Regions from separate parts of the Homo sapiens genome. Here region 2 is linked to region 1. Evidence: fine-mapped expression QTL. Tissue or cell type: whole blood. Region 1 holds a variant in brackets; the other region holds the start of a gene. All regions are shown on one strand. Distances are from middle to middle.

The links. PIP is the estimated chance that this variant, and not a neighbour inherited with it, causes the effect.
Region 2: it holds the start of ADAR, and the variant in region 1 is fine-mapped to the expression of ADAR in whole blood (INTERVAL, PIP above 0.99).

The regions. Positions count from the first base shown.
Region 1 is chr1:154,639,170-154,647,350 of GRCh38, reverse strand. No RefSeq gene overlaps it. Among named protein-coding and RNA genes, the nearest start is that of ADAR, 35 kb to the right of the region's middle. The variant TTG/G (reference allele first, on the strand shown) is at 3,374.
Region 2 is chr1:154,603,375-154,611,555 of GRCh38, reverse strand. ADAR (adenosine deaminase RNA specific) reads left to right here and starts at 3,370. Exons shown (of 15, transcript NM_001111.5): 1 at 3,370-3,564. The coding sequence starts at 3,550. RefSeq lists enhancers at 1,271-1,350, 1,434-2,427, 3,097-3,486 and a silencer at 3,487-3,596.

The DNA of each region.
Region 1 (8,181 bases):
CCTGGGAGGTGGAGGTTGCAGTGAGCTAAGATTGCGCCACTGCACTCCAGCCTAGGCAAAAGAGCAAGACTCCATCTCAAAAAACAAACAAAAAACAAACAAACAAAAACCTCATCTTGTGTAATTTTATTTATCTGAAACATTCAGAATAGGCAAATCTATAGTGACAAAAACTGTATTAGTGGTTGCTGAGGACTGGGGAAATGTTGGTTTGATGAGAACAGAGAATGATCTCTAAGGGTATGGGGTTTCTTTGAGGGTTGATGAAAATTTTCTGAGTCTAGATTATGAGTGATGGTTGCACAACTATGTAAATATTGAATTATGTACTTTAAACTGATAAATTTTATGAAGTGTAAATCATATCTCCATAAAGCTATTTTTAAAGAAGAAAATTGATATAATGTTGATATAGTTTGGATATTTGTCCCCTTCAAATCTCATGTCAAAATTGGATCCCCAAAGTTGAAGTCAGGGCCTGGTGGGAGGTGTTTGGGCCATGGGGGCAGATCCTTCATGAATGGCTGGGGTCCATCCCCTCAGTGATGACTGAGTTCTCACTCTCTTAGTTCTCGTGAAAGCTGGGTGTTTAAAAGAGCGTGGCACCTCCTCCTCTCGCTCTTGCTCCCTGTCTCACCATGTGACAGGCCTGCTGCCCCTTTACCTTCTGCTATGAGTGGAAGCTTCCCGAAGCCTTCGCCAGAAGCTGATGCTGATGGTATGCTTCTTATATAGCCTGCAGAACCATGAGCCAAATAAACTTCTTTTCTTGATAAATTACTCAACCTTAGGTTAAAGTTCCTTTATAGCAACACAAAATGAAGGAATACAACTGTCCTTCTCCTTCCTCTGCTTGATTTTTCTTTATTATACTACCTGAAATTATATGCTCATTTATTTTTTCTGTCTTTTTCTTCTCCAAACCAAAGTACAATTTTCATCAGGGCAGGTACTCTGACTATTTTTTTCACAGCTGTATCCTCAGCAGGTAAAACTATGCCTAATACATAATGGGGGTTCAATAAATTCTGCTAAATAAATGGAGTGAACAAGACAAGGAAATCACTGCTAAGTTTTACTGTTGATCGCAGACAATGACGTAAGAACGAAAGAGAGCAAAAGCGAAATTGGAAGGGACAAAATAATCACTACTTCTGGACAATATTGTCTACACAGAAACACCAAAAGAATCCATTAAAAATTACGATGACTAATAAGATAATTAAATTAGGTATCTGAGACCAGGTGTGGTGGCTCACGCCTGCAATCATGGCATTTTGGGAGGCTAAGGCAGGAGGATCGCTTGAGCTCAGGTGTTTGAGACAAGCCTGGGCAACATGGTGAAACCCTGTCTCTACCAAAAATACAAAAAATTAAAAATAGCCAGGTGTAGTGGCATATGCCTGTAGTCCCAGCTATTTGGAGGGCTGAGGTGGGAAATCGCTTGAGCCCAGGAGGTGGCGGCCCCCGGAGATTGTGCCACAGCACTCCAGCCTGGGTGACAAAGTGAGACTCTGTCTCAAAAAAAAAAAAAAAAAAAAGGCCAGGAGCGGTGGCTCACGCCTGTAATCCCAGCACTTTGGGAGGCCGAGGCGGGTGGATCATGAGGTCAGGAGATCGAGACCATCCTGGCTAACAAGGTGAAACCCCGTCTCTACTAAAAATACAAAAAATTAGCCAGGCGCGGTGGCGGGCGCCTGTAGTCCCAGCTACTCGGGAGGCTGAGGCAGGAGAATGGCGTGAACCCGGGAAGCGGAGCTTGCAGTGAGCCGAGATTGCGCCACTGCAGTCCACAGTCTGGCCTGGGCGACAGAGCGAGACTCCGTCTCAAAAAAAAAAAAAAAAAAAAAAAAAAAAAAAAAAAAGGTAGCTCAGTAAAAGCCCAACATTCAAAAATGAAAGCAACTTTTATCTATAGAGTCAATGAAATGTCAATTAAAATCTCAACAAGTTATTTTGTGGATATTGGCAAACTGATCCTAAGTTTTACAGAGAGGCCAAAGAACCAGAATAGCTAACACAATATTGAAAGAGAAGAAAAAAGTTGTGTAACTGATATTACCAGACTTCAAGACTTCCTCCCATAATACTTTTTTTTTTTTTTTGAGATGGAGTCTTGCTATGTCCCCCAGGCTGGAGTGCAGTGGCGTCATCTCAGCTCATCGCAACCTCCGCCTCCCCAATTCAAGCAATTCTCCTGCCTCAGCCTCCCAAGTAGGTGGGATTACAGGTGCACACCACCAGGCCCAGCTAATTTTTGTGTTTTTAGTACAGATGAGGTTTCACCATGTTGGCCAGGCTGGTCTCAAACTCCTGACCTCAGGTGATCTGCCCGCCTTGGCCTCCTAAAGTGCTGGGATTATAGGAGTGAGCCACCGCGCCCATAATATTTTAATTAAGAAGTGTGATATCAGCAAAAAAAAAAAAAAAAAAAAAAGCAAATACAGCAGTGGAACAGAATAGAAAACCCAGAAATAGACCCATGTAAATATAGTCAATTGATCTTTGACAAAGAAGCAAAGGCAATGTAATGGGGAAAAGATAGCCTTTTCAACAAATGATACTGGAATATGTGGACATCCATACACACACACAAAATCTAGACACAGACTTAACAAAAATTAACTCAAAATGGACCGTAAACCTAAATACAAAAGGCAGAGCTATAAAAACTTTTAAAACTGTAATACTCCTAGATGATAACATAGGAGAACATCTAGATGACCTAGGGTTTGGCAATGGCTTTTAAGATACATCAGGCCAGGCCTGTAATTACGCTTGTAATCCCAGCACTTTGGGAGGCCAAGGTGGGTGGATCACGAGGTCAGGAGTTTGAGACCAGCCTGGCCAATATGGTGAAACTCCATCTCTACTAAAAATACAAAAATTAGCTGGGTGTGGTGGCGTGTGTCTGTAGTCCCAGCTACTCGGGAGGCTGAGGCAGAAGAATCACTTGAACCCGGGAGGCAGAGGTTGCAGTGAGCCGAGATCGTGCCACTGCACTCTAGTCTGGGTGACAGAGCGAGAATCTGTCTCAAAAAAAAAAAAAATACAACATCAAAGGCACAATCCTTGAAAGAAAGAATTAATAAGCTGGACTTTTGTTGAAATTAAAAACTTCTGCTCTGTGAAAGACACTGTCAAGAGAATAAAGACAGAAACCACACTAGGAGAAAATATTTACAAAAGACATATCTGATGAAGGACTGTTATCCAAAATATACAAAGAACTATTAAAATTAAGTAATAAAAAAGTAAACAACCCAGCTAAAAACTGGACCCTTATTTGATCATTACACATTGTAAACATGTATTGAAATATCACATGTACCTCATTAATATGTACAATTTTTATTATTTTTTTTTTTTTTTT[TTG/G]AGACAGAGTCTCATTCTGTTGCCCAGGCTGGAGTGCAGTTGTGTGATCTCGGCTCAAAGCTCCACCTCCCAGGTTCACACCATTCTCCTGCCTCAGCCTCCGGAGTAGCTGGGACTACAGGTACCCACCACCACACCTGGCTAATTTTTTTGTATTTTTAGTAGAGATGGGGTTTCACCATGTTAGCCAGGATGGTCTCAAGCTCCTGACCTCGTGACCCGCCCGTCTCGGCCTCCCAAAGTGCTGGGATTACAGGCGTGAGCCACTGTGCCCAGCCAATATGTACAATTATTATATGTCAATTAAAAATAAAGAAATATAAAAGGGGCCAACGATCTCAACAGACACCTCACCAAAGAAGATATACAAATGGCAAATAAGCATATGAAAAGATGCTGCTCATCGTATCATCAGGGAAATGCAAATTAAAACAAGATACCACTATACCTCTATTAGAACGGCCAAAATCAAGAACGCTGACAATACCAAATACTGACAAGGATGTGGAGCAACAGGAACTTGCATCCATTGCAGGCAGGAATGCAAAATAGTATAGTCACTTTGGAAACAGTGTAGTGGTTTCTTGCAAAACCAAACATTTTCAACACACAATCCAGCACTCACACTCTTTGGTGTTTACCCAAATGAACTGAAATCTTACGTTCACACAAAAATCTGTTCCTATGGTATAAATATGTCCCAAAGTTCATGTGATGGAAATTTCCTCCCCAATGCAGCAGTGTTGAGAGGTGAGACCTTTAAGAGGTGATTCTTATGGACACCATTATCTAAGGAATGGGTTAGTTATCATGGGAGTGGGTTCCTGATAAAAGAATGATTTTGGCCAGATGCAGTGGCTCATGGCTGTAAACTCAGCACTTTGGGAGGCCAAGAAGTGAGGAATTGCTTGAGGCCAGGAGCTCAAGACCAGCCTGGGCAATATAACCCTGTCTCTACAAAAAATTAAAGAAAAAAAAATTGGCAAAAGTGGTGGCATGTGCCTTTAGTCCCAGCTGAGTACTCAGGAAGCTGAGGCAGGAAGATCACCTAAGCCCAGGTGTTAAGGTTATAGTGAGCTATGATTATGCCACTACACTCCAGCCTGGGTGACAGAGCAAAACCCTATCTCTAAAAAAATGAAAATAAAAAATAAAATAAAAAGAATGAGTTTGGCCACCTTTCTCTCTCACTGTTGTGTGTGCCTTCCTGCCCTTTCATCTTCCACCATGAGATGATGCAGCCCTAAAACCCTCATCAGATGCTGATGCCATGTTCTGGAACCTTCCAGCCTCCAGGACCATGAGCCAAATAAACTTATATTGTTTGTAAGTTACCCAGTCTGTAGTAGTCTATTGGAGCAGCAGAAAACAGACTAAGACTCCTGCACACAGATGTTTATAGCAGCTTTATTCATAATTGCCAATATTTGGAAGCAACTAATATATCTTTCAGTAGATAAATAAGTGGACATGTCTATCAGTAGATAAATAAATGGATAAATAAGCTGTGATACATACAGACAAGGGAATATTATTCAACACTAAAAAGAAAGAAGTTATAAAGCCATGAAAAGACATGAAGGCAACTTAAATGCATATTACTAAGTGAAAGAAGCCAATCTGAAAAGTCTACATTCTGTATAATTCCAAATCTATAACATTCTGGAAAAGGCAAAACTATGGAGATGGTAAAAAGGTCAGTGGTTGCTGGAGGTTATTAGTGAGGGAGAGATAAATCCATGGAGCACAAAGGATTTTTAGGGCAGTGAAATGACCTTGTTTGATAACGTAATGGTAATTATGTCATTATACATCTGTCCAAACCCACAGAATGTACAACATCAAAGTGACCCCTGATGTAAACTATGGACTTTGGGTGATAATGATGTGTCAGTGTAGGTTCATTAATTATAGCCAATGTGTTACTCTGGTGGGGGATGTTAATAGGGGGTAGGCTATGCATGTATGGGGGAATGGGGTTTCCCACAGGAAATCTCTGTGCCTTTTGCTCAGTTTTGCTGTGAATCAAAAACTTCTCTAAAAAATAGTCTATGAAGAACAAAAAGGAGGAGGAAGAGGGTGAGGAGGGGGAGGAGGCCTAACTAAACTGAAGGGTGTGCTATAATAATAATTGCAAACAATAGCAAAGTCATGGAATCAACCTAGGTGCCCATCAACAGGGAACTAGATAACAAAAATGTGGTATATATACACCATGGAATACTATGCAGCAATAAAAAAGAACAAAATCATGTCCTTGCAGCAACATGAATGCAACGGTAAGCTATTATCCTAAGTGAATTAACACAAAAACAGAAAATCAAATATTGAATGTTCTCACTTATAAGTGAAAGCTAAACATTGGGTACACATGGATTTAAAGATGGGAACAATAGACATTGGGAACTCCAAAAGTGGGGAGGTAGGCAGGAGGGGCAAGGGCTGAAAAACTTCCTATTGGATACTATGTTCGCTATCAATAGACAGATCAATAGAAGCACAAACCTTGCATTGTGCAATATGACAATGTAACAAACCTGACATGTACCCACCCCTTGAATCGAACATGATTTTTTTTAAACAAAAAAGAAACAGCATGAGTATCCATCCCCTTTCTCCATACTGTGAGGCCTTGTGTTGGCTCCTCTCCTGCTCCAGAGAAAGACTTAGGCCTAGTCTATGAAGAAAGTAAGACTTAGGGCCTCTAGTTTGGGATCAGATACAGTTGAGATTAAGGTTATTGTTCTGAAAACAGGATAAAGGGAATGCTTATTTGTTAAATGTTAAGACCCCTCAATCCTCCTCCTCTGCTCAGTTATCAGAGAGTTATCAACCAGGGTTATATCCTTTAGGCAGGAAAATGGAAGGTTTTTCACAGGGGAATTTGAACAGCTTAAGAGAAAAGAAAAAAACCAAATATACCAACATCAGGCGTTCTCCAACAATGGCCCAACCAGATCACCCTACAGCCGATGTTCTCAAAATCAGCTGCACATTAGATTTCCAAGGTCCTTTTGAAAACCTCTATGCCCAGGCTGTATCCCACGCCAATTCAATATGTAACTCTGGGAATAAAACCCAAATATCTATAATTCTTACTACTCTTAAACAGGATCTATAGCTATGTCCCCTTTCTGGTTCTGACTTTATTTGTGCCTCCTCTCTTTTATTCTAGATCAGTTTTATCAGTTTTTCTATCAGTCGTTTCCAAAAACCAATTTGTGCCTTTATTGAGTCTCTGTTATAAACCTGTTTTCTATTTTATTTGTTTCTACTCTTATCTTTATTTTTTATTTTCATTTTTTATTTAACTCACAGTACGTCTACTCCTATCTTTATCATTTCCTTTCTTTCTACTTTCTGTGTTTAATTTACTCTGTGTGTGTGAGTGTGTGTGTGTGTGTGTGTGTTTCTAACTTCTTGAGATGGATACTTACATCACTATTTTCAGGCTTTCTTTTTTGAACTATGTCATTATTTCTATATATATTCTATGGTTCAATTGACACATTTTCAATTTTAAGGCTATAAATTTTCCTCTAATGGCAGTTTTTGTTGCATCTTGCAAGCTTAGCTATTCTTAACATTATTTAGTCCAAAATATCTTTTCCTGTATATTGTGATTTATTTAATCCATTAGGTATTTAGAAGTATGTTGCTAATTTCCAAACATTCAGGGATATTCTAGTTACCTTTTTTATTATTGATTTCTAAATTAATTTAAGTGTGGCCAGAGAACATGCTCTGTTTGATTTTAATCATTTTAAATTTATTGAGTTGCTTTATGATCCAACATATAGTCAATTTTGGTAAATGTTCCATGTGTACTTGAAAAGAATGTATATTCAACAACAATTGTTGCAATGTTCTATATGTAACATTTCAGTAATATTTATTGCATCATTCAAATCATTTATATCTCTACTGATTTTTTTGTCTGATAGTTTTCTAGTTAACAAGAGAGGTATATTGAAATCTACTCTACTACTCTGATTAAGGATTTCTCTATTTCTTATTTTAGTTATGACTTTTTTATTTTTTTTGCTTTCTATATTCTGATGTCTTGTTATTAAGTACATACAAATTTTATATTGTTGTATTTTCTTGGTGAGCTGACCCCATTATTATTATGAAACATTTCTGTTTATTCCATTTTATTTTATTTTATTGTTTTGAGACAGGCTCTCAGTCTGTTGCCTAGGCTGGAGTGCAACCGTGTGATCTCAGCTCATTGGAACTTCCACCTCCTGGGCTCAAGTGATCCTCCCACCTCAGCCTCCCTAGTAGCTGAGACTACAGGCATGTGCCACCACACCCAGTTAATTTTTGTATTTATTCTTAGAGATGGGGTTTTACCATGTTGGCCAGGCTGGTTATTCACTTCTTATCTTGCTTTATACATTAAAGTCTTTATGCTACATCTGCTTTCTTTTGTTTTGAATTTGTGTTGTATCTATATTTTTTTCATTCTTTTGCTTTCAAACTTTCTGTGTCCTTATATTTAAGGTGTGTTTATTATAATCAACATATAGTTGTGTGTGTGTTTTTTAAATCCAGTGTGACAATCTTCCTCTTTAATTGGACTTTTTAGTCCATCTATGTTTAATGTAATTACTGACATATTTGGGCTTAAAATCTATCTTATTGTTTCTGTATTCTGTATTTCTTTTTCTCTCCTTCTTGCCTTCTTTTGAATTTTTCAAATCCTGTTTTCTTTATCTATTAGCTTATTAGTTTATCTTCTCTTACTGTTCTTTCAATGGTTACTCTAGATTACAGCCTGCATCCTTAACTTTTTAAAGTATA
Region 2 (8,181 bases), 36 kb after region 1:
TCTGAAATAAACCTATTATTTTTGGTTAATTTTTTTAAAGACTTTCATCCAACTCGTCAAGTTCCTACAATAGAACAGTTAAAAAAAAAAAGACATCATCACCTCACAACCATGGGGGAGTTAAAACAATTACTGAGGGGGAGGAGATGAAACGTTTATGAATAAGACTGTCTGCAGTTACTTGAGCTGCTAAGATTAAATGACAATAGGAGTTGTTGTTCTTTCAAGGCATAAACTGACCTTCTGTTGAGGAAAGTTCACTGCTTTGCCACTGTGTCCTATGTTAGATTAAAAGGGGTGGGGGGAGCAGCGGTGCAGCTTCCCTCGCACAGTAGTTGTGATTAAAGCTTTTCTGGATCATTTCTGAAGAAGGGTAAAGGCTTTCAGATTGTCTTGCCTGAAGACAAGAAAGCAGAGGTAAGATATAACTCCTGTTACTTAAACGGAGGAAAAAAAACATGGGGAAGTGGACTGGAATTGCAACAGCAAGAGTTTGTTGTGGTTCTTGTTTGTTTTTACCTTTTAAATTTGTGAAATACAGCATATATATACAGAAACATGAATAAAACGTAAATGTATAATGAAATTATTGGAAAGCAAACATATGTAGCCACTACCCAAGTCAAGAGCTAGAACATCACCGGTACCCAAAAGATTTCTTCCCAGTCAAAACTCCCACCTTTCTCCCTAGAAGTGATTAACCACAATTTTGTCTTTTTTTTTTTTTTTTTCTTTTTTTTTTTTTTTGAGACGGTGTCTTGCTCTGTCTCCAGGCTGGAGTGCAATGGCACAATCTTGGCTCACTGCAACCTCCGACTCCCTGCTTCAAGCGTTTCTACCACGTCAGCCTCCCCAGTAGCTGGGACTACAGGCACACGCCACCATGCCCAGCTAATTTTTTGTACTTTTAGTAGAGATGGGGTTTCACTATGTTGGCCAGGATGGTCTCGATCCCCTGACCTCGTGATCCGCCCACCTCGGCCTCCCAAAGTGCTGGGATTACAGGCATGAGCCACTGCGCCCGGCCTCATTTTGTCTTTTATGCAGAGCATACTATAGTTTGGTTTTGCCTGGCTTGGGACTTTCTGTAAGTGGGATCATATAGTATACATATGGCTTTTCCCACTCAGTATCATATTTAGATAATTAGCTACCTTGTTGCATGCGTAGATCTTTCATTTTTGTTGCTGTATTGTATTCCATCATGGGCATATGCCACCATTTATCCATTTTACTTTTGATGGACATTTGGGTTGTTTCCAGTTTGGGGGCTATTAATTACAAATAATGCAACCATGAACTTCTTGGGGTTTACCATTACCTTTCTAGATAATGGTAAACTGGTTTCCTGTAGTGACTAAGAGCTGCTCTGCATCCTTGCTGCCACCTGGTCTAATCAGATGGCTAATGCTGTCTGTCTGGTGAATGGACAGTAGCTCACTGTAGCTATACTGTGCATTTCTCTGATGTGATGGGGTTGAGAACCTTTTCATATGTTTGATATTTTTTATCTCCTGTGAAGTTGTCTTTCGATTGTTTTTGCCCATTGTTATACCTACTGAGGGGTCTGTTATTCTTTCAACTAACCAGCCCTCTGAAGGCGAATATAAGGATACAAAACATGCTTCCTGCCCCCGAGGAGATGACTTGACAATTCTAGAGGCAGATATATGAACAAGAAGTACATGATAATTGTGATTACTGAGGCATCCATCTTCCCTAGCAGACTAGCTAAAGGATGGCGCTCTTATTTGTGTCATATCCTGGGTGCTTAACACAGTATCTGCCACATAATTAGGTGCTTAGTAAAGTTTTGTTAAATGATCGAATGGGGCGTTTTTAGCGCAGTGTGCAAGTGCCCTATTAGGGGTAGGCGCCCAGTAACTCGAGAAGCATGGAGTAGGAAACCACAAACAGCACCTGCTCCCCCTCCTCTCCCCCTACCTGCTGTGGGGAAGGCCTCCCTTGTAAATTTGAAAGGTTGATTCACGGGAAGCCGTGGAGGAGGTGCATGCTAGGCCAACGAATAGAATGTGCAAAGGCCCAGAAGGAAGACAGAGCCCAGCCTGCAAGGGAATGTTAATTTGGAGTGACTAACACCATGAAAGGGCATCAGCTGGAGATACTGCTATAAAGGGACTGCCTTGTAATTTCATAAGCATGGGGGTAAAATTAAGATTAAACACAGGGAAAGAACATTCTCACAGGTGAGGATGGTGTTGAACCCTAGAATAATCGTTTCCCAGATACCTTGAACAAAAATCCAGCAGTTAGAGAAGCCTGACCATGAAGCAAATTTGACTTTTGTCCCTCTAGATAACAAAAGTTATCTTTTTGAAAGTAATGGTGTAATTTGAATGAGTGTAGAGAAGCGCTGAAGACTGAGCTTTACTAAAGCCTTCAGACCTGGATTTGGCAGCAGCGTGGCCTTAGTCAAGCCTCGGTTTCTACACCTGCAAAGTGGGAATAATGCCTACCTTGGAGGGCTGTTGTGAAGATTAAGGGAGATAATACATGTAAAGTACTTAACCATTTGCCTGGTGGGGTAGTTTTTATGACCTAGATCCTAAATTGTTCACTGCTGCTGTTGCTACTCTTGGTACTTTTTACTGGCTGGCATCTGCTTGCTTAAGTTTATAACATAGTAGGAGCATTAACAAGGTCCCACGGTGGGGACCTTGGTCGTTTGACGAGATCTGCGCTCCCGCCCATCCCCTCCCCCCCCCCTCCACATTGGAGACGCGGCCACCACCGCGCTGGCGCGGAGAGAGGGAGGACCGGGCGTCATGCTGTTTCTGGCCTGAGGTTTTGTGTGCCTTTGTTTTCCTTTTGCTCTATTCGTGTATTCCTGCCTACGGCCTGTGCGGGGAATTAGGAGCTCAGTACTGAAACGGCGGTTTTCCTAAACAGTACCGGACGGGCGCGGGGGCTGACGCCTGTAATCCCAACACTTTGGGAGGCCGAGGTGGGCGGATCTCTTGAAGCCGGGAGTTCGAGACCACCCTGGCTAACGTGGTGAAACCCTGTTCTTACTAAAAATACAAAAAAAAAAAAAAAAAAAAAGCCAGGAGTGATGGCGCTCGCCTGTAATCCCAGCTACTCCGTAGGCTGAGGCAGGAGAATCGCTTGAACCCGGGGGGCAGAGGTTGCAGTGAGCCGAGATTGCGCCATTGCACTCCAGCCTGGGCAAAAAGAGCGAGACTCCGCCTCAAAAAAAAAAAAAAAAGTACCTTCCGTAGTTCTCATGCAGCGGAGGGGTTCGACTTGTAACCGGCCTGAAACCAAGCGTGGCGCAAGATTTGCTCAAGCCCCTCCTCTTGGCCAAACTTTCCGGAGGGGAAGGCTTTCCGAGGAAACGAAAGCGAAATTGAACCGGAGCCATCTTGGGCCCGGCGCGCAGACCCGCGGAGTTTCCCGTGCCGACGCCCCGGGGCCACTTCCAGTGCGGAGTAGCGGAGGCGTGGGGGCCTCGAGGGGCTGGCGCGGCCCAGCGGTCGGGCCAGGGTCGTGCCGCCGGCGGGTCGGGCCGGGCAATGCCTCGCGGGCGCAATGAATCCGCGGCAGGTAAGCCGGGCCGGCCTTGGACCTTCGCCGCCGTCTGGGTTCGTTTACAACCTCACAGGCTTTGTGTTGCAGTGCGTAGCGTGTGCGTCTTGTGAGTGTTAGAGTGTGTGTGTGTGTGTCGTCTTGCCAAGCAGCATTGCTGGTTTAGGAATTTGTGCGTCTTGTGAGTGTGTGTGTGTGGGTGTGTGTCGTCTTGCCAAGCAGCATTGCTGGTTTAGGAATTTGTGCGTCTTGTGAGAGTGTGTGTGTGTGTGTGTGCGTGTGTGTGTAGTCTTGCCAAGCAGCATTGCTGGTTTAGGAATTTGTGAATTTGTATCCTGCTCATTAATTCTGCAGAATGGAGCAGTGCGTGAAGAGGGCTTGGGGGAAAATGCGCCCCCGTCTGAGTAGGAAGGCCTGAGCCCATGTCAAGGCAGACACATCGTCTCCCTTTCTGCTAGGGCCCCTTGTGGAACCCCCTACCCCCGCTTTAGCCCCACTTGAACAACGTTCGGACTTTGAGCAGCGCACACTATCCTCAGCTCACCTTATCCACCTCCTGAAGGCCTTCTGGGAGTTAAAAATGGCACTTAAGCTGTAGGAGAAAGCTTGTTAACCACTTTATAGCTAAAAACTGGGAAAACACAAATGGCCTTCAGCAGGTTAACAGATAAACTGAAATACATCCACATAATGGGATACTGCTTAGTAGTGAAGAGGAAATACTGTTACAAGTAACAACACGGGTGACTCGCAAGTGCGTTATGCTAAGCACGAGAAGCCAGACTCAAAAGGCTGCATACTGTATGAGTCCATTTATATGACATTCTGGAAAAAAAAAACCACAGTTATAGGGATGGAAAGTGGATCCGTGGGTGCCAGGGACTGGGTATCGTGGAAGAAATTGATTGTTGAGTGGCATGAAAAAGCTTTTTAGGGAAATAGAAATGTTCTATATCTTGATTGTGGTGGCGATTGTCGAAATTCATAGATTTATACACTTAAAAGGATAAATTTTACTGTATCTAAATTATATACCTCAATTTTGTTAAGATATATATATATTTTTTTTTTTTTAAGCACTCCTTTGAAAGGATTAAGGACGCCTAACTTGAAGGAAAAGCATTTCTGCACAGGTGTCAGTGTATTGCACTGTGGAACCTGTGTGGTAAAGGCAAAGGGGGTAGTGCTTATCTCTTGATCCTAAATATGTGAGACCAGATTAAAGTGAAATCTGGGAGGCAATGAATGTTAAATGAGTTGTTATGTAATTTGCATAGAGGTGATGCTGAGAGATTTAGAAAGGATCACTGTGGGTTGCTTGCTCACTTTCTTGCTCTCCTATTCCGTAGCTTTCCAAATGGCTGTACTCAACGGTGGCTTGGTGTTTAGGGGATTTAAGGGGGGCAAAAAGAAAGATTAATAATCTCCTCCTCTCCCTCTAACCCTACTGCCCTAAGATATCCTTAGCAAACTTACATCTCCTTTCTTTTCTCTGTGTTCATTCCATTGTGCGCACACATACACATTCATGGATTTTCTCTTTTTGTTTAGGGAAAAAAATTATAATGTACATACTATTCTACAACTTTTTGTTGTTTTATTGAACATTATATGATTCCTAAATTATCCCCAGGTGAATACAAATAGATATGACACATTTTAAAAAAATAAAATAACTGGCCGGGCGTGGTAGCTCATGCCTGTAATCCCAGCACTTTGGGAGGCCGAGGAGGGCGGATCAGGAGATCGACACCATCCTGGCCAGCATGGTGAAACCCCATCTCTACTAAAAATACAAAAATTAGCTGGGTGTGGTGGCGTGCGCCTGTAATCCCAGCTACTCCGGAGGCTGAGGCAGGAGAATCACTTGAACCCGGGAGGCGGAGATTGCAGTGAGCTGAGATCACACTGCACTCCAGCCTGATTGCAGTGAGCCGAGATCATGCCACTGCACTCCAGCTTGGCAACAGAGCGAGACTCCGTCTCACAAGAAAAAAAATAACCGTGTGAGTACTATTCCATAGAATGAATGTTTCATAATTTAATTCTTCTATAGACAGACATTAAAATATTTTCCAGATTTGGGCCAAGAGTAGCAGTTTAAAAAACATTTAGCTTTTAACTGACTCTAGCCACTTTGAAACACAATTTTTTTTTCCCAAGGTCACTCAAAGAGCTAATAGGAGAACCCCTAAGTCCCATAATTCAGCTCTGGGAGCCAGCACTCACTCTGTACACACATTTGCCTCTGTCCCTAGCAATATGGTGGGCGTGAGGGTGCAGCAAGAGGAACAAGAAAGAAATGATTGCTTGCATAGTGGCGTCTTGTTCATGCAGTCATTAATTCAACAAATGTTTGTTGAGAATCAGCTTTGTGCCAAGTGCTAGAGAGGTTGAGATGATTGAAGCATAGTCCTTGACCCCCAAGAGCTCACCATGGAATCAACTGAAGCCCCTCATCAGTACTGTGTTGGGAATATTGAGAGTGGAGAGTTGAGTATAACTTATAGGACACCTAATGTTAATTACCTTTCAGACACTGCAATGTGTGTGTGCCATAAAAAAAAAAAAAATCCAGTAGCTCTGATACGAGGGAAAGTAAATGGTTTAACAGGTGCTGAGTAGGAGAAGCTCAAGGAGAGGAAACCCCAAGGGCTGAAGAAGGTGGGAGTCAGGAGTCTCCTGAAGCAAGTGGCATTTAAGGAGCTCTATAAGGAAAGGGTCAGAGTTGTGATAGGTGGCTGTGGAGGGAGATGTGCCACCTGGATTGGCATGTAGAGGGATAGAAAGATTATAGGCCTTTGCAATGGCCCAGTAAGAGGTAATGAGGGGCTGGAACTGGAAGAAAACACATTTAAGACACAGTACAGAGGTGGCAGACAAGGTGGGACTTGGCAACTACCTGATGAGATCCAGGAGATGAGGCCAGGAGGCGGGCAGCAAAGATGACGCAGGTTTCTAGCCTTAATAGGCTAGGAGGAGAGTGATGCCATTAGCAATAAGAACTACAGGAGAAGGAGCTGAGTTTGAGGGAACTATTAATTTGGTTCAGAATATGTGCTGTTTGAGTTATGGCAGGATATTTAAGTGGACAGACTGTCGACATAGTTGGAAATTCAGATCTTAAGCTCCCACACAAGGTAGTGGCTGGACATAGTAGATTTGAGTGCTCTTGCTTCAGAGGGCTAGTTTAGGTTGGGGCAGTGATTAAAGCAACCTAGGAAATAAATTATAAAGGAAGAAGAGGTCCTTAAAACCTTGGAGACTGATTATATAAAGGGTGGATCCGTTAATACAGTAGCTATTAAAAAATTATAAGGGGTGGGAAAAAGGGACAAAGAAGAAAAAAGAGGTGAAAGACCTTTGCTGTGTCACCAAACCCTGGGAGGAGAATTTTTTAAAAGAAGAGTACTCAATCCACAGTGAACTAAGGCATGTTTGTTAAACACAATTGACCACCACACAGCGAAGACCCAAATGAGGTTCAAGAGAAGGAATTTTTATGGACCCTGTTAGCACAAGTCAAGGTCCTTCTCCAGTACCACTGGGAAGCTTTGGAGAAGAAAAGGGGGACAGTGGGCCTTGGGTGGAGAAGGGAACTGACCATGAGATCCAGGTGGGGTGAGGAGGTGTGTGAAGTCAGAGTGGGGAAGAATCAGGGTGGCTTACTGGCAGCTTCACCGGGGTCATGCGAGGAGCAGGTTCCACCAGAGTAAGGAGTGAAGTTGTAGAAACACAGGGAAGTCACCATCAGAAAAGAGCAGGAGTCAAGAAACTATGGCCCACAGGTACAAACTACCTGTTTTTATAAATAAAGCTTCATGGTAAATGAATTGTAAATAAAGTTTTGCATATTGTGTGAGGCTGTTTTTGTGCTACAGTGGCAGAGCTGTCTGGCCCTTTATAGAAAAAGTTTATCAGCCACTGGAAAAGAGTTGCAGGATTTGAGGTCTTGGTGTGATGGCCTAGGTTAGAGTCATAGTGAGATTGAAGGAGTAGCTAGACAAGCCAATTGTGTGGCAGAAAGGTAGGGATGGAGATCACTGGGTTAAGGATCCTTGTAGCCAGGACACCATGAGAGTGATTGACAAGAATGCTGAAATCCCCTAAGTGTGTCAGGATGTGGAAGAGTAGAAGGCTAGAGTTATGGAAGAAAGGGTCCCACCTCTACCTGTGCAGCCTCCAGGAGAGTCTGAGGAGGGGGCGGTGAGTGTGAGTAAATGTTGTCAGAATCCCTCCTCCCAGTCTACAAGCCCCAGGGAAAGGAAGCAAGGTGTTTACTGACACCCCCAGGCTTATAAGTACTTCCTGGCTCCATCACCCTCCAGTGAACAGCCCTGGGGAGAAGACAGTACTGGTTTGCAGGTGGGTGGGTGGGGAAAGGGGTCACAGGTGCTTGGTGTTCTGGTAAATGTGCATATGAGAACATGGGGTTGCTTGTGCCCTGTCCGTCAGGGTTCAGAAGAACGTGCAGTGGAAGCAGCTATGGGGAAGTAGCTAGGGAAGGTAGGACTGGTCTGAGGTGGTGAGGAGCAGATGCTGCCAGCTCCACACATCCAGGAGAGCCTGGGTGGTTTGGGCAAAAGTCTCTGGCATCCCTTCTGAGCCTGGGTACCACACTGAAGAGTGAGGACA